3 separate regions of the Homo sapiens genome follow, and regions 1 and 3 are each linked to region 2. The links come from fine-mapping of genetic effects on gene expression. A gene starts in region 2. Each other region holds a variant in brackets. All regions are shown on one strand. Distances are between the middles of the regions.

Region 1 (8,000 bases), 270 kb after region 2:
AAACATCCTCATATCTTATAGCTTTTTCTTACCAAAAGCAGTTTTTGCCCTCTTGTATAATTGCTTATAGAATTGTTTCCCTTATTATTTTATTAATAATATATTAATTATTAGTTATTAATATATTATAAATAACATATTAATTATGTGTTAAGAATTCTAAATAAAGAAATATATATTAATATATGTTAATATATCCTTATATTAATTAGAATTCTTAACCCTTAGTGACCTTAATTTCCAGTGAACACTAGGAAGCAAGCAAAAATTGTGAACTGTCTGTCACACCAGCAATCTGTAGATCAATCGTCTGTGAATAATAATTTCTAGAAGCATGTAGTTCCCCATAGTACAATCTGTCACTGTGGCACAGAAAATTTTTAGTAACAGTCCCAAATATTTTTAGTCTCTTGGTAATAAGAAATTGTAGAGGAGGCAACATTTAATCTCTATCCTCTTAGATCTTTTTTTACTTTTGAGATATGATCTTGCTCTGTCACACAGGCTGGAGTGCAGTGCTGAGAACACACGGCTCACTGCAGCCTTGACCTCCTGGGCTCAAGCGATCCTCCCACCTCACCCTCCCACATGTTAGGTTTTGAAGGGAAGGCGAGGGTTAAAGAAAGACACACACACACACACACACAGAAAGAGGGCGGCTCAAGAGCAAATGCAGGCTTTACGCCCAGCATAAAATCTACAGAAGTAGGAACCAGCCTAATGCCAGAGCCCACCGCTGCTTACAGGCTGGTGGTACTTATAGGTATGGGCGGGAGGGGTCTGGGCAGTATGGCTTGTTGCCTGGCAGGCTATTGATAAGATGTTCTCATGATGAGGCGGTTTTGCTTTTGTCTCGGTGGGATGCCATTGTGGTGTTTCTTGGACTTTTGCCCAGCAAGATATGATAGGAATGTTTCTTTAGTTGGGCCTTTGTCTGCCTTGTGGTCAGGTGGTTAGGAAGGCTGTTTCTCCCGACCCAAACCCCCATGAAATGTTTCACTTTGACCAAGGTCTGCAAAATAATGGGGAGCTTACAAAATGGTGCAGTTGGGACTAACACCAGGTAGCCGAGACCACAGGTATGTGCCACCATGTCCACATAAATTTTTAGTTTTGTAGAGACAGGGTCTGGCTGTGTTGCCTAAGCTGATCTTGAATTCTTAGGCTCAAGTGGTCCTCCTACCTTGGCCTCCCAAAGTGCTGCCATGTGTGACCTGCCATGCCTGGCCCTGTCTTATTTTTTGTTTCTTTCATCTTGACTATTCTATGCACCTCATATACAGTGAGGTGAAATCATACAGTATTCGTCCTTTCGTGTCTGGCATATTTCACTTAACATAACATTTTTGAGGCTTATCCATGATACAATTTTGTGGCTGCATAGTGTTCTATTGTTGGACTTGGAAGTCTTTTCAATCTTTCACTATTACAAACAGTGCCACAATATCCTTGGATGGACTTATCTTTGTGTATTTGTGTTCGTATTTTTCACTGAGAGGGTTCGGAGACTTTTATGTTTTATTTCAAGTTATTTCCCCATCCAGATCATGATGCAAATCCCTGCCCTTCCTCAACATCATCCCTTCCCCCTTGGCTGAAATGGTCAGGCCAGAGTAGGTGCTAGGGCCCGGAAGCAGGAATTCTGACCAGGCTACCTTAAAGGGTGACAGGAACACCACTTAGAGTGATTGCTTTCATAAAGTCAGCATCAGCTCTCCAGAGCACTTTCCCACATTTGGTTTCAACACCCAGCATCAACAAGGAGTTAAGTGTCTGGCAAAATCCCAGGGAAGGATTCCTCCAGGCTGTGCTTAAACCAGTAGACCACGTTTGGAAGATTTGCTTTACCAGCCTGGCCATGTTCAGAAACTCTCCAAATCCTAAAACCTGACTTCTACAAGTTTCTCAAAATTCATCTGATCCAATATGCTCGACCCTCATTATGGAGATTGGGCTACCGAGGTTCAGAGGGAGATGAGACCAGCTAAGGTCAACTCAGAAATAGGGTGACCAGTTGTTCCCATTTACCTGGGACTTTCCCCATTCTAGCACTGAAAGTCCCATATCCAAAAAACCCCTCAGCCCTGGGCAGTCCTCTGGTCAGCCTCTGGAGCCAGGATACAGCCAAGATCAGACCCATGAGTTTTTTAGTTCTGGGCCCTCCTCCTTACACCCGCCTTTTCAGCCCTGCTTCCAGCCCCTACACAAAAGGAATGATTTGCACTCTGATTGCCCTTCCAGACGGGAAAGCTGAAGCGCTACTTCACGGACCTAGAGGCCTTGGCCATGGTCACTGCTGCTTTCTGCCATGACATTGACCACAGAGGCACCAATAACCTCTACCAGATGAAGTGAGTCAGCCTCCCTCCCCACACCCAACCCTCCGGATTCATTATCCAGCTCTGTGTGGCTCCCAGGCAGACTCACTGGCCAACAGGGAAGTCTTGTGGTCCACAGCTTCCCACCGCCTTCTGCCCTTGGGATCCGGGTCTCCTCCTGTAGCAGGCAGAATAATGACCACCACAAAGATGTCCAGATCTCAAATCCCTGAGCTGGGGAATATGTTGCCTTACATACAAAAGGGACTGTGCAGATGTGATTAAGTCGAGGATCTTGAGATACAGGGATTATTCATTCGAGTGGGCCCCATGTAGTCCCAATGGTCCTTATAAGAGGGAAGCAAGAGGTCAGAGAGGAAAGAAGATGCTACCCTGCTGGCTTTGAAGATGGAGGCATGGCCTACAAGCAAGGAATGCAGGTGGCCTCTAGAAGCTCAAAAGAGCAAGGAAACGGATTCTCCTCTGGAGCTTCCAGAAGGAAAGCAGCCCTAAGGACCCATTTCAGACTCCATACAGAGCTGTAAAATAATAAATTTTATTGCTTTAAGCCATTAAGTTTGTGGCAGTTTGTTATAGCAGCCATAGAAAATGAATGCATTAAACTCCTGTACTTGTCTCCTTCCTTGTCCTACCTGCTGCACTAATTTGAGCCAAGATGTTAATAACCAGTAATGGTTCATTCACTCATCTCGTATTTACAGTGCTTCTAATATAGTGTGGTAGGCTCTATGCCAGGCAAAAAAGGTGCTCTGATGAGCAAAACAGCTCCTGTCCTTACAGAGCTTATATTTCAGACAGCCCATAAAGCATAGTCCTTGAACCATGATCTCATTGGATCCTCACAACCACCCAGTGGGCTGGGCAGAGCAGGGGCTAATGTTATCCCTACTTACAGATGAGAAAACTGAGTCTCCGCTCAGGGCCGATGGCCTGTAAGTCATTAACAAGCTCTGAATTCATGCTGCTGAGTCTTCTCAATACTTTCATGCTGCTCTGGGGCTAGAGATTGGGTTTACATTTTACATTTTGAGAATCTAAATACTTAGCACAGTGTGTGGCACATAGCAAGTGCTCAACAAATAATTATTGAATGCAGAAATGAATAAATACACGGCTTGCGGAAATTCAGTTGTTTCCTTCAAGACTTGGATGTGAAGAATCAGGGCTAGATGATCTTGAAGCATGGCCCAGTGCTAATGTCCCTAAAATCCCTTATGGCATTGTGTGTGTTTGTGGCTTTCTCTGGGGAAGGGGTCCATGCTATTTAGTAGATTCTCTAATGAGTTCACGACCCAAAAGTAACTCGGAATCACTTGTGGAGAAGGCTGAAGACTGAGTCAGGAGACTTGATGTTTAGTCCTAATTTTCTATTGTCCACTCCATATTGATTCTCTCTCTTTCTCATTCAGATCCCAGAACCCACTGGCCAAGCTCCATGGGTCCTCTATCTTGGAAAGACACCACTTGGAGTTTGGCAAAACACTGCTCAGAGACGAGGTAGGATGAGGGCCAAGGGTCTACAGGCCGCGGGGCCTGGATCAGAGGCTCTATTTCACAAGGAGCCTGAGTGTGCCCAGGGAGCATTCTTCCCATTGGCCTGGGCTGCCTCTGCCATCATCTGGGGTGGCCATTGGTAGGTGGGTGACTTTACTGCCAGCATCAATTCTCTCCCATCTCGCTTCTCTTTTTTTCTTTAGAGCCTGAATATCTTTCAAAACCTCAATCGTCGACAGCATGAGCATGCCATCCACATGATGGACATTGCAATCATTGCCACAGACCTCGCCCTGTATTTCAAGTTGGTATATCTTCTCATTCTAATAGTAAAAGCAACAATGATTATATGTATGCATATATATATATACACACATATATATACATATATACACATATATATACACACATATATACATATATACACATATATACACACATATATATACATATATACACATATATACATATATACACATATATACATATATACACATATATACACATATATACATATATATACACATATATATACACATATATCTACACATATATATGTGTGTGTGTATATATATATATAT[A/T]TTTTTTTTTTTTCTTTTTTGAGACAGGATCTCACTCTGTTGCCCAGGCTAGAGTGCGGTGGCACCATCACAGCTCACTGCTTCCTGGGCTCAAGGGATCCTCCCACCTCAGCCTCCTGAGTGGCTGGGACTACAGGAACACCACCACTCCTGGATAATTTTTTAATTTGCTGTAAAGATGGGTTCTCACTATGTTACCCAGGCTGATCTAAAACTCCTGGTCTCAAGCCATCCTTCTGCCTCAGCCTCCCAAAGTATTGGGATTACAGGCATGAGCCACTGCACCCAGCAACAATATAATAACAATAATAATAACAAACATCATAGTTCCAATTAATTTAGCATATACTATGTGTCAGGCACAACACGTGTGTTATGGACACATTGATTCTTGCTACAAGCCTGTGAGTTAGATATCATTACCCCCGCTGTACAGATGGGAACACTGAGATTCAGGACAAGAGATTTGCTAAGAGTAGATAACAAATCAGTGGCAGAGACTTAGGTTAAACCTAGGTCTTCACTCCTGGGCCTTGGCTCTTTCAACCTTGTTTTGTGAATTTTGTTGATTTAATAAGGCTCCATCTGAATCAGCCAATGTTAGCAGCTCAGGTGTTGCCTTATTCTAAGACTTGCTCCCTTTACTAGACTGATATGTTTTGTAGGAAGAGGACGATGTTCCAAAAGATCGTGGATCAGTCTAAGACATATGAGAGTGAACAGGAGTGGACACAGTACATGATGCTGGAGCAGACACGGAAGGAAATCGTTATGTGAGTTGGGATGGGGTTAAAACCTGATCCTCTTAGGCTTAGGATCATGAGGCGAGATGCACTGACAGCTCTTGCTGCCCTCAACAAGCCTTGGGACTATTTCATTTTGGAGGCCTTCAACATATGAAAAAAATGAAGTTATGCCAAATTCCAATTGCACAAGCCACATGTTTAATCTTTATTTTAGCACTAAAAATGCAAGACAGTGTATTATTGTTTTATTTATCTGAATAAAAAAATATGTTATTTGAAGTAGTTCAATCATAATATCTAAGATTTGGGTGGTAAACTGATATAACTTTTAAGTTTTTGATACAACGGAAAGCACTATAGCAATTAAGGGGTTTTTGTTTTGTTTTGTTTTTTGTTTTGAGACAGAGTCTCGCTCTGTCGCCCAGGCTGGAGTGTAGTGGTGCGATCTCGGCTTACTGCAACTTCCGCCTCCCAGGTTCAAGCAATTCTCCTGCCTCAGCCTGCCTAGTAGCTGGGATTACAGTCACCCACCACCACGCCCAGCTAATTTTTGTATTTTTAGTCGAGACCGGGTTTTGCCATGTTGCCTAGGCTGGTTTTAAACTCCTGACCTCAAGTGATACACCCACCTCTGTCTCTCAAAGTGCTGGGATTATAGGCGTGAGCCATCATGCCCGGCCCGAATTAAAGTTTGAGTGATAGTTAATGTGTTATTCAAAACATATAGGCTTAATTTTTAACGTATTCCTTTACATAGGACAATATCCCACAATATAGCTGTGCTAGTCACAAATTGGTTATGGTTGGTATGAAATTTACAGTGCATGGTCTGGCATGGTTGGTAATGGGACTCAAATTTAAGTTGTCTGGTGAATGTCTTTTTTCAGTTTTCTCAGTGTGCTTCCATGATTCACCTCAATTGACAATGGGGTGAGAAGTGTAAATTTGAGGCCTTTTATGAATATGTGGCCCAAGCCAAATGGTCCCCTGGCTCCTCTGTGATGGGTCCTGGGCATTGAAGGCAATGGTCAGGAAAAGTTGCAGGGGAGACAAGGCTGACTAGTTGCCTAGGAAGCATTGGGTTATTTGTTTATCCCCAGATGCTTCTGTGGAAATGAGGCTTGATTAAGTCACAAGCATTGCAAATGTCTGCAACAGAGAAGAGGAGACCACTGGGACAGGCTCCGGAAACGGGGGGGGCAGCAGCAAGTTGCCACTCCTTCAGCCCTGCAGTTGTCCAACCAGGCCTCCCACAAAGGTCCCCTGATTCTGGGAGCAGTGCAATCTGCTTTCACTGAACAAGGGGGCATGCTCAGCCCACAGTTACTCATAGACTGGCCAGGAGCTGCCCCCCTGGACATTTTATTTATTTATTTATTTATTTATTTATTTATTTATTTATTTTTGAGACAGGGTCTTGCTCTATTGCCCAGGCTGGAGTGCAGTGGCGATCAGGGCTCACTGCAGCCTCAACCTTCCAGGCTCAAGCAATCCCCTCACCTCAGCCTCCTTAGTAGTTGGGACTACAGGCACACGCACTATACCTGGCTAATTTTTGTAATTTTGGTAGAAACAGGTTTTGCCATGTTGCCTAGGCTGGTTTTGAACTCCTGAGCTTAAGCCATCCACCCTCCTTGGCCTCCCAAAGTGTTGAGATTACAAGTGTGAGCCACCACGTCCAGCCACATTTATTTATTTATAATTTCAACTTTTATTATACATTAAAGAATGCATGGGCAGGTTTGTTACATGGGTATATTGTGTGACACTGAGGTTTGGGGTACAAACGATCCTCACGCAGGTAGTGAGCATAGCACTCAGTATGTGGTTTTCTGGCCCACACTCTCCTCCGTCTCCCCTTGTGTAGTCCCCAGTATCTATTGTTGACATCTTTGTGTCCATGTATATGTAATGTTTATCTCACACCTGTAAGTGAGAATATGCAGTATTTGGTTTTCCATTCTTGTGTTAATTTGCTTAAGATAATGGCCTCCAACACCATCCCTGTTGCTGCAAAGGCTATGATTTTGTTCTTTTTTATGGCTGTGTAGTATTCCATGGCACGTATGGAACACATTTTCTTTATCTAATCCACCGTTGATGAGCACCTAGGTTGATTCCATGTTTTGCTATTGTGAATAGTGCTGTGATGAACATGTTAGGGCATGTGTCTTTTTGGTAGAACTCTTTGTTTTCTTTTGGATACACACCCAGTAATGAGATGTTGGGTCGAATGGTAATTCTACTTGAAGTTCTTTGAGGAAACTCCAAACTGCTTTCCACAGTGGCTGAACTAGTTTACATTCTCACCAGCAGTGCATAAGGATTCCTTTTTCTCCACAGCCTTACCAGCATCTGTTATGTTTTGATTTTTCTTTTCTTTTCTTTTTTCTGAGACGGTGTCTCACTCTGTCACCCAGGCTGGAGTACAGCAGCACGATCTCGGCTCACTGCAACCTGCACCTCCTGGGTTCAAGCAATTCTCGTGCCTCAGCCTCCACAGTAGCTGGGACTACAGGCACCCGCCACCATTCCCAGCTAAATTTTTTTGTATTTTTTGGTAGAGACGGGGTTTCACCATGTTGGCTAGATTGGTCTCAAACTCCTGACCTCAAGTGATCTGCCTGTCTCAGCCTTCCAAAGTACCCAGCCTTCTTTTGACTTTTTAATAATTGCCATTGTGACTGGTGCCAGACAGTATCTCATTTTGGTTATTTATTTATTGACTTTTGCTTGTGCTTTTCTTTTTTTGAGATGGAGTCTCGCTCTGTTGCCCAGGATGGAATGCAATCTCGGCTCACTGCAACTTCCACTTCCCGAGTTCAAGGGCTTCTCCTGCC
Region 2 (8,154 bases):
TGCACAAGTTCCTTTCCATCACTGGCCTCAGTCATACCGGCTGTGTAATGAGCATGTTGGTGAGCTTCCCTCCAGCCCTGATGGTGGACTTCTATGACAGCAGCTCTTGGTAACACCTGAGGATCAGTCACCTTTTTTTTTTTTTTTGAGATGGAGTTTCACTCTTGTTGCCCAGACTGGAGTGCAATGGCGCCATCTCAGCTCACCACAACGTCTGCCTCCCGGGTTCAAGCAATTCTCTGGCCTCAGCCTCCCGAGTAGCTGGGATTACAGGCATGCACCACCACACCCAGCTAATTTTGTATTTTTAGTGGAGACTGGGTTTCTCCATGTTGGCCAGGCTGGTCTCAAACTCCTGACCTCAGGTGATCCACCCACCTTGGCCTCCCAAAGTGCTGGGATTATAGACGTGAGCCACCGCGCCCAGCTGGATCAGTCACCTTTTGTGGCACTTTCTTGTTTTGCTCGAGGCTTGACAAAATGCCTGTGGGCATGGCTTATTCAGGTCTCTCCACAACCCTGTGAGGTAGGCACATGTGTCCCCATTTCACAGTTGAAGGTACTGAGGCTCAGAGAGCTCAGGTCATATCATCTCCCAGCGTCACATGGCTGGGAAGTGGTGGAGCTGGGTTGGAGCTGCCAACATCAGAGTCCAGACATTTAACTCTTGAGTGTGCCACCGTGCTGTGGGGGAAGGCAGTGTGGAACCCTAAGGCCCAGAGCCCCCCTCTCCCACTGTACCCCATCCCAGTCCACTTCAGGCAGGGCTCCCCACATTCCATGCTCTGCCCACCTACTCTCAGCCCAGGCTTCCCCAAGACAGCATTGTCCAAGGCTGGACTGGGTTCCCAGTATCTGTGTAGGTGTGAGGATGTTCATAGCTTGTCCTGTCCACAGTGGGGCTGGGGGCCATGCTGACCACCCCAGGGTGATGGTGCTGCACTGCCCATGTGCCCCGTCCATTGCCGCTGAAGGCAGAGTGCACAAGGGGAATCCAAGACCCAGAAAAGGGAGGCTCCGCCCAGGAAGACACAGTGATGGAATGCTGCTCGAATGAGGAAACTCACTATTTCAGTAATAGTGTACACTTAGTACACTTCGAGGCAATGTACTAAGTCCTTTGTACAAACCGAAGAGTCTTATGAATCAGTCTTTGACTTGTCTCCATTTTCCAGAGGAGGAAACCAAGGCCAGGAGTTTAAGTGACTTGCCTAAGCTCATGTAGCTTGAAACTGGAGCAGCTGGGATTCGAACCCAGCTCTATCTCTAGCTCTCCAACCTCCTCTGTCAATCATGACAATTTTGCCCCTTGGTGAGTGCCCTGGGTTGCTCCCTGTAGCTCTGCACCTCCCACCCATATCTCAGTTGAGAGGAGGAGTGACAGTCCTGGTGCCCACCAAGGGTTAATGGCAGTAGGGGCTAAGTAATTCCAGATGGGCCTCAGGACGGCTGGGCTGGCCGGAAACTGGAGGCCGCCAGCTTCCCAGGGGAGCCACCGCCAACTGCCCCTCCCCTTTGTGCTGCATCTCTGGCCCCAGCTGTACCCCTGCCCTAGGGCCCACCAGCCTCCTCTCCCTTGCTAGAGTCCAGCTCTAAGGGAAATTGCAGACGGACCATCCCAAGGGCCTTGTAGCACAGTGAGTCCACAACTGTTATGTACAAATAGGGAAACCGAGGCTCAGGCAGGGCAAGGGACTTATTCAAGTTCTCCTGATAAGTCTGTGGCTGGGTCTTCTGACTCCCAGACTAGCTTCTTTGGGGACTAGGGGGTTGGTGTGTCTCGTGGCCTCCCCCAGGCTGGCCTGGCTGCAGAGGGTCAGCCAAGGATTCAGAGGTGAATGGCCCAGGCAGATGCTAGGAGGGGAGTCGTAAATTTCTGACGGAATCTTTGGGCACAAGAAATCCCTGTGCAAGCCTGACCTTGTGGCCTGTGGGATCTTTTCACATTCCCCTATTTCCCTGTTGCCACAAAGACCTGGCCAGGCCCCCTCTCTCGGGGTACTCTTATGGTCCCCAACCCGTGGCTGGGAACCAGTCTGAGAACACTTCTCCTTCTATGTGGTCCAGCCCAGATGCTCTGCTGGGCAATCCCGATTGGGACTAGACCAAGAAATGCAAGATAGTTGACTGTGGTGGGCATGGAATCCCAGCTCACGCAAATCCTCTGCTCTGTGAACAGGGGTCTGGGGGAAGCTGAGGAGGAAAGACTTAGCGGCGCAGAGGGAAGGAGGGCAGAGCCAGCCTCTACCTGTGTCACCTGGGACAGCTTTCTTCACCCTCTGGAATTCAGTTGCCCTGTGGGTGCAGTAGTGGGAGCAGGGGTGGTAAGCCCACTCTATATGCCCTTCTAAAATAATGCCCTTTGCCATCTGAGGGCTAGGAGTCTGTAACTGGAGATGTCTTCTGATCTGAGAAGCTGAGGGTGGAAGAAGAGACCCAGCTGGGGGAACTGGAGGAGTCTTGGCAGACCCTGGTAGGAAAGGAGAGCCAGAGAATGGAAATGGAACAAAACGGATACTTGAAAGTATCTTGTTGAGGCTGGGTGCGGTGGCTCAAGCCTGTAATCCCAGCACTTTGGGAGGCTGAGGTGGGTGGATCATGAAGTCAGGGGTTTGAGACCAGCCTGGCCAACATAGTGAAACCCGGTCTCTACAAAAAATACAAAAATAGCCAGGTGTGGTGGTGTGCGCCTGTAATCCCAGCTACTTGGGAGTCTGAGGCAGGAGAGTCACTTGAACCTGGGAGGCGGAGGTTGCAGTGAGCCTAGACTGCGCCATTGCACTCCAGCCTGGGAGACAGAGCAAGACTCCATCTCAAAAAAAAAAAAAAAAAAAAAAAGAAAGTATCTTGTTGAGTGACTGAATGAAAGAGCCACAGGGGGAACCTAGGAAGAAAGCAGGGCAGGGGGTTCATCTACACTGGAATAGGGGTCTCGGGTGGGGGTCAGATGACTTGTGTCTCTTCCATCATGTGTCTCATGAGACCTAGTTCTGCCCCAGCTCTGCCATTGCTGCGTAAGCTTGGGAAGCTTATTTTGCTCCTCTGGGCCTCAGTGTCCCCATCTATAAAATGGGGCAAATAATCCTCTCCTTGCACCCCAGGGGCTTTGAGACGTGAAAAGGAATGTATCTGTCAATATCCAGAGATATCCAATCTGTGCTGGATGACCTTGACCAAATCACATTCCCTCTCTGTGCCAATTCACCCCTGGGCCTTGGTTTGTCCTTCTGAAAAACGGCTGATCATCTTGGAGGATCTTTCCATCTCCTCCATGTCACCTCTTCTCAGCAGTGCTCTCTGATTCTCTCAGGCTTCCGTTAGGGGTCCTTCTAAATGCACTCTCAGCCTCCTGTCTGCCGACCGGGCACCTGCTTGCCCAATGAATATCTTGCTCACTAGCCTGGTGCTTCTGAGGTCAGGACCACGTCTTGCTACTGTCCCCTGCACCCAGTACAGTGTTAGAATGTAGTAAATGCTCAGTATGCTTGTTCAATGAATGAAGGTTGACTGAATCAACCACAGAGATGATCAGAGTCTCCTTTACAGATGGGGAAACTGAGGCACTGAGAAATGATCTCCCTGGGTGCCATGGCAAGGGGAGGCCGCCACCCGACATGGGCATCGGGAAAGTGGGGCCGAGGCCACTCTTTGACAAAAGTGACTCAGCAGCTGGCGGCTGGCGTGGGCTGTGGAATTTCTAAGCATCCCCTCACATCCTGAGCGAACGGGCGATGGGAGGGAGTAAGCAGAGTGAAAAGAAGAAAAACAAGAAACTTGGGGGAAAAGAAAGAGAGAGGGGGAAAAAAACTGAAATTGAAAACAGACGCACGCGTCCACCCTCCCTGCCCCGCCGCCCCCCCTTCTCCCAGCTGGGCCAATCAGAAGCCACCCTGCAGCCTTTCCCCCAAAGTGGCGGGGGAAGTGGGGGGGCATGGAAGCCCATAGTGGTGTGAGCTCCTGAGGCTGCCAGCAGCCAGCAGTGACTGCCCGCCCTATCTGGGACCCAGGATCGCTCTGTGAGCAACTTGGAGCCAGAGAGGAGATCAACAAGGAGGAGGAGAGAGCCGGCCCCTCAGCCCTGCTGCCCAGCAGCAGCCTGTGCTCGCCCTGCCCAACGCAGACAGCCAGACCCAGGGCGGCCCCTCTGGCGGCTCTGCTCCTCCCGAAGGATGCTTGGGGAGTGAGGCGAAGCTGGGCCGCTCCTCTCCCCTACAGCAGCCCCCTTCCTCCATCCCTCTGTTCTCCTGAGCCTTCAGGAGCCTGCACCAGTCCTGCCTGTCCTTCTACTCAGCTGTTACCCACTCTGGGACCAGCAGTCTTTCTGATAACTGGGAGAGGGCAGTAAGGAGGACTTCCTGGAGGGGGTGACTGTCCAGAGCCTGGAACTGTGCCCACACCAGAAGCCATCAGCAGCAAGGTAAGTGCTGGAAAAAGTGGGAACCCCAGCCCCATGCCCTGTCCCTTTGCCCTAACCTGCATCTCTTCGAGTAGGTAAAAAAAAAAAAAAAAAAAAAAAGGGAAGATATTTTTAACAAAACAAGATGAGAGGAGGCTGGGAGACTGTGGGTGATGTCAGGGATGGAGGAGCCAGTTTTCTCCTTTCCCCTGCTCTGGGGTGAGTGGCCTCCACCTCATCATCCCTGCTGCTCCTGCCTTCATCAAACAATCCTCAGGGGTTTCTGGGTGCTGACTGGGGGCCTCCAAAGCACAGCACAGTCAATGGGGAGTGGGGAGAGCTGGGAAGAGCGGGAGAGGGGAATTGGGAGAAGGTAGGCAGGGTACACAGAAAGCAGGGGACTGGGGACCTCAGGACCATAGCCGCTGTTCCTTGGCCCAAGCCTTGTTTCTAAGAATCAGTCTGGCTTTAGGCCAGTCAGCCGCCAGGCAACCTCTGGGGATTTAAATGGATTTGCAAATTTTCTAGATTCTTAAGATATCCTTCTAAACCCCCAGCAGCTAGAAAAGTTTGAGGGCTAGGAAAGTTCGAGGGTGATGGGCGGCCATGGCAACCCCCTAGCGGTCATGCTGCTGGGTCTGGGGGCTGGGACCTGGCTGTCAGATCTGGGGGCTCCTCTGTGAAGAAGGGGTCAGCCACTGGGCCATTTCCTTTGGTCCCAGGCAGCTGCTCAGGCCTCCTCGTTGTCTCCCTCCTTCTGGACTCTACCCCTTCTCCATGCCATTCTAAAGCATAAATCCAATCACACCACCTCCCTGCCCAGGATCCGCCTATGGCTCCCCAGTGCCTGGAGAAAGTCCCAGCTCCTAACAGAGGCTGCCACTGCTTGACACTTACTGCACGCCGCAACTGTGCTGAGTGCTTTATGAGACTGATCTCATGTAATGCTCACCAGCAACCCCAGAGGCAGTGACTGTTTTTACCTCCGTTTTATACATGAGGAACTTGAGGCTCACGCAGCCACATAACTGTAGCCACACAGCTAGTAAGTGGCACAGCCTGGAGAGGTTGGAATCTCCCCGTGCCCCATTACTCCAAACTTGGGCCTTTTGTTCCCGCCAGTCAGATCCCAGAATTCCCAGAAGGAATGCGCACCATCCTGCTTGTGGGCATTTGCCCTCCCTCTTCCCCCTTTCTGGAATGCCCTTCCTCATCACTTTTCTTTCAGGGATATTCCATACACCACCTCTTCCAGGCAGCCTTCCTAGGTTCTTCCTGTCTTCCAAGTGCTAGCCATGCACTTTGTGCTGAAGCCATGTTACTTGGCCCTCCCCTGTTGGTGATCTGTTTATGTTCTGTTTGTTCATCAGAGATTGTTCAGGCCCCAGCAGTCAGAACTGAGGCCGCACTTTCTGCTGGGGAAAGGTTTAAGGTTTCCCCATCCTGTGCTCTTCCCCCAGTGCCCAGCCCTGGATAGGCAGTGCGGCTGAAAAAATGTCCTGGTGAAAGGGAGGAGGAGCTCACTGAAGACCTTCTGCTCCCAAGTGTGAGACTAGAACCCAGGCCTCCAGCCTTCTCACAGGTGCCCTTCCAGGACATCGTGTGGCTACTCCAGGCAGCATTCCTCCATTGCAAGCAGGGAGGAGTATCTCTGCTTCCCTCTGTGACCTCCCAATTGCACAGAGGCCTCTAGTGACAAGTTCTGAAGTCATGCAGTCCTCCCCTGTCTCCAAGCAGGAGACCCTGAATCCACAGCCTTCAGGGACATACAGTCCCTGAACACCTACCTCATGCAGGCATAGAGCCTGGTACTTCACACACCTTGGAGTCCTCATGGCAAGTTTTTGAAATCAGTGTTATTACCTACTTTTTGTAGATGAGGAAGCTGAGATCTGGAGAGGCTAAGTGACTTTCCCAGGGCCATACGGTGAGTTAAGGTGGTGTTTAGGCTGAAGTCTGCCTGACTCTAAAGGCTTACCTCGTGCTCCCCGGGAAGCTCCCAGTCAGAGGGAAGAATCTCCATCCTCCTGCAGAGCCTGCTCCTGGCTTCAGCACCTTCCCCAGCAGAAAGTGCAGCCTCAGGTCTGACTGCTCCAAGGTCTGCCCGGGCCCTGGCTTGGTCTTGAGAGAGGAAAGAGACCATCTGGTCAGCACCCTCCTCCCAGACAGCAGTTATCAGCAGCCCCCCTCCTCTGCGGGAAGAAGAGCTGGGACTTATAATTGCCCACACATGTGGGGCAGGCAGTGGAAAGCACCGTGGATCCAGAGTCAGGAGACCCAGTGCTTGCCCTGGCTTGATTTAAATCCACCGTGTGGCCAACCTCAGACCCCCCACATCCCATCTCTGGGCTCCTTCCGCAGCTGGGAGGCAGTGAGCGCTGTGGGTAACCAGCACCAGGCTTGGGCATCAGATGACTATGCATTGACCCCGAGTCAGTTTCTGGCTGACTGTGTGACCCCGGGGCAGCACCTTGCCTCTCTGGGCCTCAATCTCCTTCTCTGTGAGCAGCAGGACCGTGTGTGGGCTCCATGAGACAACAGCATTGGCAAGGTGCTTACCACAGTTCCTGCACTTCACAGCTGGACCTCTGGCCACTGGCTGAGAGAACCACTGCTCTCCTGGCCTCCTGCATTGGAACACTTGGCTGTGAAATTAATCTGCAACCTGCAAAAGGCTCTGCCCACAGAAGGGACCTGGACACCATGTATGTTCCAAAGATCCGTGTCCATCCTCCAGGCACAGGCCACAGTCTGACTCTGAGACCAGCTGCCTTCTAGGCTAAAGGAGGGTGCTCTGGGCATTGGCTCAGAACAGGCTGCTGCTGAATGCAGTGGGAAGGGAGAAAGGGATGAAAAGGTCTTCTGAAATGCCCACCCATTTCTTGCATTTGATTCAGAACCCAGTGGGCAGTGGGTTCTTGGAATGGGAATCTTTTTGGTGCCCCCTGTCTTCTGACCCAGAGCGTTAGGAGGGAAGGGAAGGGGTGTTGGGCCCCTTCCCAGGGTCAGGGCTTGTAGCACCTCAGCTGGGAAGCAGTGTGAGCATGATGATATAACAGGAACCAACTCGTTCTTAGCACTTTCTGTGTCTACTTCAATTGTGCTTTACATCTGTTACCTCAAAGTTGCTGCTGTATTCCTCAGCACTTGGAACATGCTGGGCATTCAGGACATTCTTAGTAAATATTTACTGGATTAATTTAACCATCGAGGCTGGGCACGGTGGCTCACACATGTAATCCCAGCACTTTGGGAGGCCGAGGCGGGTGGATCACCCGAGGTCTGGAGTTTGAGACCAGCCTGGCCAACATGGTGAAACCCTGTCTCTACTAAAAATACAAAAATTAGCCAGACGTGGTGGTGCGCACCTGTATCCCAGCTACTCAGGAGGCTGAGGCACTAGAATTGCTTGAATCCAGGAGGCGGAGATTGCAGTGAGCCTAAGCGACAGGGCAAGACTGTCTCAAAAAAAATAAATAAATAAATAAATAAACCGTCACAGCAACCTCAAAATTAGATATATAAACTCTCCCCACTTTTTTTTTTTTTTTTTTTTGAGATGGAGTCTCACTCTGTTGCCCAGGCTGGAGTGCAATGGTATGATCTTGGCTCACCGCAACCTCCGCTTCCCAAGCTCAAGTGATTCTCCTGCCTCAGCCTCCCAAGTAGCTGGGATTACAGGCGTGTGCGCCACCATGCCCAGCTAATTTTTATATTTTTAGTACAGATGGGGTTTCACCGTGTTGGCCAGGCTGGTC
Region 3 (8,348 bases), 22 kb before region 2:
CAACATCAGACAGGGAGGACTGGGGCTGCTGCTGGACCCCTAGGACCTGCCAGTTACCTCAAAGGCTCTGGCTCACGATACCAAGCCCTGAGCTGGGCCTGCACCAGAGGCCGGAGGCTGGTCTGCCCAAGCCGTCCACACATCCCCCTGTGTCCAGGCACCGGGCAGGAGAGATGCAGCTCATCCCACAGATCCTCACTGAGCTCCTGCTGTGAGCCAAGCTCTGGGCTACAGCACTGAGCAAAATAAAACCCCTGCCCTCGTGATGCTTAGCTTCTAGGGGAGGGAGATGATGAAAAGAAAAATAAACATAAAATATTTGATACACTAGTTGATAAGTGTTTCAGAAGAAAAGGAGGCAGGGAAGGAGGACTGGGAATTTAGGGAGGAGGTGGTCTGTGATTTTAAATAGAATGGGCCGTGAAGGCCTTGCTGAAAAGGGGAATTTCAGCAAAGGTGTAAAGGAGGTACAGGAAAGAGTCATGTAGGGCCAGGCGCGGTGGCTCACACCTGTAATCCCAGCACTTTATGGGAGGCTGAGGGAGGTGGATCACGTGAGGTCAGGGGTTCAAGACCAGCCTGGCCAACATGGTGAAACCTCATCTCTACTAAAAAATACAAAAATTAGCCGGGCGTGGTGGCATACATCTGTAATCCCAGCTACCCAGGAGGCTGAGGCGGGAAAACAGGAGAATTGCTTGAACCTGGGAGGTGGAGGTTGTGGTGAGCCAGGATTACACCACTGCATTCTAGCCTGGGTGATCGAGTGAGACTCCGTCTCAAGAAAAATAAACAAAAAAAAGAGTCATGCAGACATCTGGGGAGAGGCTTCTAGGCAGAGGGAACAGCAAGTGCAAAGGCCCCGAGGTGGGGCATGCCTGCTGTCTGCCTGCTGTCTGACAGTGAGGAGCTGTGAGGAAGCTGGTGGAGCTGAGGTGCAGTGAGAAGGGGGACGGGACAGGAGACAAGGGGAGGGACTCTGGGTTTTCCTCTGTCTGGGACAGGAGCCATTGCAGGATTCTGAGCAGAGGAGACATGAAGTCTGATGTAGGTTTTAATATTACTCTGGCTACTGCATGGAGAACAGATTTGCAAGAGGAAGGGGAAGTGCAGGGAGAGCTGCCGTAACCCAGGAGAGAGGGCGGTGCCTTGGCTTCTTTATGAGGCTCAGCCTGGGGCCCAGAGCTGGATTTGAGGACCAGCTGAGGTTAATGTCAGGACTTTCTTTGGGACTGGGATCAGAGGTCTGTCTGGAGAGAATACTAAGAGTCATGCTTGGCCTGGGCTTGTGTGGGGCCTGGCTAAGCACCAGTTTCCTTTATAAGAAGCTGAGCACGTGGCTATAAATAGGAGGCGCACGCAAGCACTTCCAGACCCGCACACGCTCCCACCAGGGCATGGCGGGTCTCTGAAAGACCATCAACCCCTCCCGCCTCTCGCAAGTGTCCCCACCACAGCCCAGCCTTCATCTTCTTGGGTTTCAGCCCTGGCCCTGCCTGTCCCTCAGCACCCCTGTACTAACCACTCACCCGCCCCCATTCTGACGCCTGTCCCCCTCCACCAAGCCCACGCAGCTTGGCAGGACAGCCACTGGGCTCTCCGTGAGCCAAATGGCTTTGTGGAGAATGGGAGGCAGCAGATGTTCCTGGGCAGCTTTTCCCTGGGTTTCCTGCCAGAGCAGAGGAACCACACTGGACGCTTCCATGTCCACTGACCTCAGTCCGCTGCCCAGCATAGCACGGGATAGCCTCGGACTTCAGCCAGGTTTGGCCCCAGGAAAGGGATAAGGGAGTGGCTGCCCAGGCCTTGGCTCCAGATTGGGCCCCTCCTTGGCCTAGAAAATGCAACGCCGGCTCAAAAACAGTTCTGCCTAATGCCACCAGCACTGGAGGCCAACATGGCTCTGAATCCACAGACCCATTGGGTTCACTGGGCTAAAGCTGGAAGCGGTTGTGAGAGTTTAGTCTCCTCGCACTTTACTGAGGAAGAGATCGGGGTTCACAATGGTTGCATGGCAGCTGGAGGGCCAAAGAAGAGGCCTGGTGAGCCCTTCCAGTCCTACCTCCCTGTGTAGTCAGGGTCACTGAGGCCCAGGCAGGCACGGGCCTGCCCAAGGCCATGCCCCATGCCCTAGAGCTCTTGCTGCCTCTCCAGGGTACAATTCCGCATGCTGCCAAATTTAGGGCCCACTGAGCCTGCCATGGAGCCCCCAAAGTGTTGGTAACAGAAGCTTAAATAGCAGACCACCCCTCCATTGCTACTTCTGGGAAAGGAGAGCCCAGACCATGGTGAGGGAAGGCTACTGAGAGCCCCAGGCTGGGGGCCCTTAAAATGCCCAGAGGACTCACAGCCACCCCCAGGAGGACAGGCCTGAGGTAGGGCATGAGGCTCCCTGCCCACCCAGACCTTCGCCTAGGGATGACAGGCAGTGGTCCTGAAGGTGCTTTTTCCTTAGAGTCCTAGCACCCACTCCTGCCTCTTCTGACGAGCAAGCCCAGACCCATGAGAGCCATTTCATAGGTGGGGGGAAATGGGCTCAGAAAGGGCACTTGCAGAGGGCTGTCCTGACTGGTCATGGTATGAACCAGGACTCAGGTTTCTGACCTCAGGCCCAGCTCTTCCACAAGGGAGGGGGTCAGGAGTGAGACCAGATGGAGATAGGGTTTAGCTGCACAATTACTCCTCTCTCTCCTGGCAAGGCTGCCAGTGAAGACCTGGCCCACAGGCCTTGTCACTCCTCTCTGGGCTCTGGAGAGGAGCTGGTGGGCTCAGGAACCCATTGGCCAACTTCTCTCTGGTGGAGCTGCTTGAAACACACAATTTTCGTGCAAGAAAATGGCTCTGCCAAAGAACAAAATGTTTGCTATCACACCGTGTGGCTCAGAAACCAGGGAATCCCATATGCTGTTCCAGGAGTGAGAACTGAAACATCCTCCTTAGCGCCCAACTTGGCGATATCTAGCCTCATTTAACAGGCACATACCCTTTGACCGAAGAATCCCACTTCCAGTAACTGATCCGACCAAGAGCTGCCCAAAGCTCCATCTGTTTCTGATAACACAAGACAAAAAACAATGTACACGTGTACAAGCAGGGAGCTGGTGAGAGAAGGGATGGTGCATTCGTGGAGAGGAGCATTATGCAGTCATTAAAAAGAAATTTCAAAACCCCATATATCCCAGTATGGAACAATTTCTAAGACGTGTGAAAAAAAAAGCAAGACAGAATAGTGTAAATAGTATGTTACCATTTGTGTATAAAAATGGGGGAGACACACACATACCCAAACATAGTTCTTTCTGAAAGAATATACAAGAAGCCAGTAATAGGGGCTGCCTCTGGAGAGGGCACTGGAGGTTGGAAAGCCACAGGTAGGAGGGAGACTTTGGGTTTTTTAAATCTTTATCAAGTGTATGTGTTAATTTGTATTTTTAATGACAGCCCCAGGAGCCCTGGGCTCCAGTCCCAGCTCTGGGCTGGAACTCCCAACTGCCCCAAGATACCTCTGGAGCCTGGGAAGGAGCGGGCAGGGAGGTGTGTGAGAGCAGTGGGGTGGGGAGAGGGCTGGGGATGAATTATTTACAGGCCC[C/G]TGGGACGCTGGAGCTAAGGGGGAAGTCCAGGCTCCTATAACAGGTGTCTGCTGAGGGGCGGGCCACTCCCAGCCACCTAATAAGTAATCCTCTGGGCCAGATGCCAGTGTGAATGGGTGGGAGGGAGAATGGGGAGCCCCCTCAGCTCTTCAGGGGTGAGCACAGAGGGGAAGAGCCTTGGGTAACTCACCGAAATGGGAGGCTTTCTCTCTCCAGTTTTGGGATGCGCAGAATGTCCCATCCATGTGGATTAGGCCACCATGAGAGGTAGCAAACTCCCGTCCCCTAATGCATGCACGGTACAGGCCAATGGCTCCCAGTGCCTGACCAGCAGCCTTGGAACTGCCTGGGAAGCTTTTTCACAGTGCAGATTCTGGCCCCAGAAATTCAAATTTAGTGGCGCTAGAATGGGTCTCAAAATTTGGTACTTGAATAGTTTTCCAGGTGACCCTAACGTGTGGTTGGTTGGGCTTTAGCTCCATAATTACTCCTCTCTGTCCTGGCAAGGCTGCCGGTGAAGACCTGGCCCACAGACCTTGTCACCCTTCTCTGGGCTCTGGAGAGGGGCTGTGGAGCCCAACAGAGGTACACTCTGTGACTCCAGAGGTGTCTCGGGGCAGTCAGGAGTTCCAGCCCAGAGCTCCTGGATGTCATTAAAACTAAACCTCTGGGGTTGTGGAGTGCAGCTGCTCACTGGCTGGGTAACCTAGGACAGTCTCCCCACCTCTCTGAGCCTCATTTTCTGTATTTGTAAAATGGGGAAAATTAATATTCTAATAATAGCCAACACATCCATGTGCTGGGCCCTTTGTATACATCTCTCAATGACCCGTGGAGTTGGGCAACTATCACTCTATTTTACAGATGAGAAAACTCAGGGTCAGAGAGGACCACGCATCAGGCAGGTGGGATTCAAAACCAGGTCTATCTGGCCTCAGAAACAGCAGTAGAACCTATCAATCAAATGGTACAAGGTTTCTTGTAGTTCTCTCCAACCCTGCGGCATACAGGGGCTCACTTGAGATAGATGGACAATGTCTAGCATGCAGGAGGTGCATGGGGAAGGGCAGATCTTACTCATTTCCAACAGTTGTGGGATGACCATCTGGCAGGAATGCCAGGGAATGGATCTGTGCAATGGGCGGTCTGCTAGAAATGACCGTTTACTTATAAGGTCCCTTCCAACTTGGAAACGTGAACCTCCCAATGTTTGTTGATTCTCTGATTGTGTTTGTTATTGTAGCTGAAAGAATTCTAAGACCAATTTCAGTCTGAGAGTCTAGACACTGGGCCTGCCCGGGGGGAGGATGGGGACAGGAGCCACAGTGGCCTGCAGTGGGGGCTCCCCATCCAGCCTGGGCCAGGCAAGGACAGAGTGTGGCCTCTGCTCCAGCACAATCAAATGGCCCCTAGGTCAGCACTTCCTTTGCCCTCTTCCTGCCGGGTGTGTGGCCCTGGTGGATGACCAGCTTTGGCCCCCCAAGGCCTGGACCACAAATCCAGCTCTGAAAACCTTTGTGACTCCTCCCTGGGTGGTCCAGCCCCAGCTGGCTGTGCTTCAAGATCCTAACCCCAACACACACATGCAAACAGGCATGCACGTCTGTACACACAAGGGCTTGCTGAAAATGCAGATTCCCAGGCCCCACTCCAGATCTACCACATCCTAATTTCTCTGTCATCTTTAACGAGGCCCCTGTGGATTCTAAACCACCAGCTAAAGTCAGTGGGTCCTGGTCCCAGTTCCATGCCATCTGTGTGGCCTAGAATTAGTTCCTCCTCTCCTCTGGGCATTGGTTTAGCCTGTGCACCAGTCCAAGTGCCCTCGAGACTCTGCAGTTTTGAGCCCTTTGTGCAGCTTTGAGCCTTCCCTTAAAGATCAGACCTCCTGGCCCCCCCTGCCACCTTGCTGCCTGCCACCCCAGGCAACCCCCACAGGGAGCACCTGCCCCACACGCCCTCCAGCCAAGTCCCTCAGAGACCCACACTGCATGCAGCAACAGGCGATGGGGAGCTCACCCGTGTCTGTGATGCCAGCCTAGGAATGACAAACGAAGGGCATAGGGCTTTTGGCAGGAGGGGGCTCAGGGGAGGTGGGAATAGGGTAGCCATAGAATGCTACTGCAAAGAGCCCCCTTTTCCAAGATAAGGAAGCAAGTCCAGAGAGCTTATAGGTCACTTGCTGTGGATGACTGCAAGGCCAATAGGCAAAGGAAAGGGTGGGAAAGAGGGGCTCAGGAGGACTGATCTCACCCCAGATAATACTTGTAGGAGCGCTGCAAGGGTGGCAGGCTGTGGGCCAGCTCAGAGGTGGTGGCACTTCTGGTGAGGGGCCTAAATTGTAGCAGCGTCACACTCTACTGAGGTTTGGGAAAGGCTGGGTGTTTGGGGCGAGCTTCTAGACCTTGCCTGGTGGCAGAGACCTGGACTGTGGTCCAGCCTGGTCATCTTAGTTGAAGGACTTGACAAGTGACTGAATTTCCCTGGGCTTTCCTTCCCCTGCCTGGGGAACAGAATGGCTGTGAGAGCAGTCTGGAAAGGGTAAAAAGCTATGGAGACAAAAAGGAGAAAACAGCTATTTGCAGAAGTGAGCATGTTGGTGGAGTCCCTCGTGAGAGAGAGGAATGTCGCCTAATGGGGAGCCATAGGGCCAAGAACACACTGACCTGGGAGTGGGGAGATCTGGCCGGCCCACCAGCTGGACATGTGATCCCTTATTTGGGCCTGTTTCCCCATCTGTACCACCAGGGGGAGGGCTCTCCACTGTGCCCTAACCTCACCAGCTCTACAATGGATGGATACCCTTCCTGGGACATCAGGCTTTCTGCCTGACCCACAGTTGGGTCCTTGTCTTGGCTGATCTGGCAGTCCCCGGCTGCTAATATCATGGTTCCTCACTCAAGCCCTGAGCAGGGATGAAGCTGGCATGGGAGCGGGGAAAGGGGGACAATGGCCAGGCCAGCCATTTTGGGAGTCCTACAGCCTTAGCCAGATTCTCCTCCCCACTGTCACCCTCCTTCCTAGTTAGAGTTCTTCATCATCTCTGCACCCTCCTCCTCCAGGGCCACCTTTGCATCATCTGCTGCCCTATCTTCTTCATCAAGGTCCACAATCTGACCCAGCTTTGGGAGGTAACAAAGAGGAAGGGACTTTAGAGTCAGACAGAGACCGGTGGCTCTCCCCCAGTCTGGCCATGTGCCAGTGGTATGTCCCCAGGCAAGTTGCTGGACCTCTTTGAGTTTCAGTTTATTTATCTTTAAAATGAAGACATGAATACTTTCTTTATATGGTAGTTATGGAGACCAAAGTAATAACCTACTTAACAAAGTACTTATTAATAAAAACTATGATGATGATGATGATACTACAGAGACAAAGAAGCTGAAAGAGGCAGGAGAGAGGCCAGGCGAGGTGGCTCATGCCTGTAATCCCAGCACTTTGGGAGGCTGAGGTGGGTGGATCACCTGAGGTCAGGAGTTCGAGACCAGCCTGACCAACATGATGAAACTCTGTCTCTACTAAAAATACAATAATTAGCTGGGCGTGGTGGCGTGTGCCTGTAATCCCAGCTACTCTGGAGGCTGAGGCAGGAGAATCGCTTGAATCCAGGAGGCGGACGTTGCAGTGAGCCGAGATTGCGCCATTGCAGTCCAGCCTGGGCGACAAGAGCAAAACTCCATCTCAGGAAAAAAAAAAAAAAGGCAGGAGAGATTCCTCAATGCAAGAACAAGGAGCTTATGCAGAATGGATTTCCATTCTGGGAACTCTTGAGAGAGATTTTTCTGCACTGTCCAATATGACAGCAACTAGCCACATTAATTAAATAAAATATAAAATTCTGTTTCTCAGTCACACTAGCTGTATTTCAAGTGTTCAACAGCCATGTGCAGCTGGTGGCTGCCTACTGGACAGCACAGATACAGAGCATTTCCATCCTGGCGGAAAGTCCTACTGGACAAACGCTGCTAGATCAAACTCCTACCAGGGTCCGGACGCCCACACTGCAGCACACGCCTACTAGCTGCAAAGCAGCCAGTTCTTGCATCTGCCACCCATTTATATCCTTCCTGAGTTTTTCCACAGGGGCACCCTGAGCCCAAGACAGCCATTTAAGATTTACAAACAGCAACTGCATCCCTTCAGGTCTTCTCTGAGGCCGAAGAACTTGAGGCCTCTCTGAACTGTTTCCTGGTGGAGTTTCCAGGCCACTGCCCCCCTGGCCATCTTCCACTAGACTAGTCTGAGAGTGAAGCCCTTGCTACTCCACTGTAGGTGTGGCTCCCGAAGTCTCACGTTCGAGGTGGGGCTGCAGTGAGGGGCTCTGCCTCCAGCCCCTTCCTACCCCTAGCTGGCTGTGTGACCTTGGTGAAGACCCTCCCCTTAGGCCTTGGCTCCCTGAATGCTCTTTGAGGGTAGGGCCATGCCATTTAGCTCACCAGCACCTATCACGTGCCTGACACACACAGTGAGTACTTGATGAATCCTTGGTGAATACATAAAACAAACCTGCTACTTCCTCTGCTTCTTTAACTCAATAAACAGCACCTCCATCCTCCAGCCATTCAGATCAAAAGCCAAGGTGGCACCTCTCAGTCCTGTCTCCCTTGCTCCCCAAGTCCACTCCAGCAGCTGGTGGCTCAGCCTCCAAAGCACAGCCTTCTGTCCATCTCCATTGCTCCTAAAGCTTAGTCCAGCCACTCATTTGATGGAGAAGAAATGTGCTGTTCCGGGGACAGAAATCTTGCATTTGAAAAAATG

Direction of the effects. Positions count from the first base shown, and alleles are read on the strand shown. Sizes are in standard deviations (SD) of each study's normalised expression. Not every link is listed here.
As copies of A replace T in region 1, the expression in monocytes after LPS of the gene that starts at base 3,969 in region 2 goes up (large effect, 1.4 SD a copy in Kim-Hellmuth 2017).

What was found.
Region 1: its variant is fine-mapped to the expression of PDGFRB in monocytes after LPS (Kim-Hellmuth 2017, PIP 0.95).
Region 3: its variant is fine-mapped to the expression of PDGFRB in lymphoblastoid cells (TwinsUK, PIP 0.95).

Annotation. Positions count from the first base shown.
Region 1 is chr5:149,880,616-149,888,615 of GRCh38, reverse strand. It overlaps PDE6A (phosphodiesterase 6A), which reads left to right. Exons shown (of 22, transcript NM_000440.3): 14 at 2,242-2,351; 15 at 3,749-3,836; 16 at 4,037-4,137; 17 at 5,080-5,187. Among named protein-coding and RNA genes, the nearest start is that of PDE6A, 60 kb to the left of the region's middle. The variant A/T (reference allele first, on the strand shown) is at 4,415.
Region 2 is chr5:150,151,660-150,159,813 of GRCh38, reverse strand. PDGFRB (platelet derived growth factor receptor beta) reads left to right here and starts at 3,969. Exons shown (of 23, transcript NM_002609.4): 1 at 3,969-4,417. RefSeq lists enhancers at 1,263-2,051, 6,209-6,728, 6,729-7,249.
Region 3 is chr5:150,173,719-150,182,066 of GRCh38, reverse strand. The region is part of intron 1 of CDX1 (caudal type homeobox 1); the gene reads right to left. Among named protein-coding and RNA genes, the nearest start is that of CDX1, 11 kb to the right of the region's middle. The variant C/G (reference allele first, on the strand shown) is at 3,590.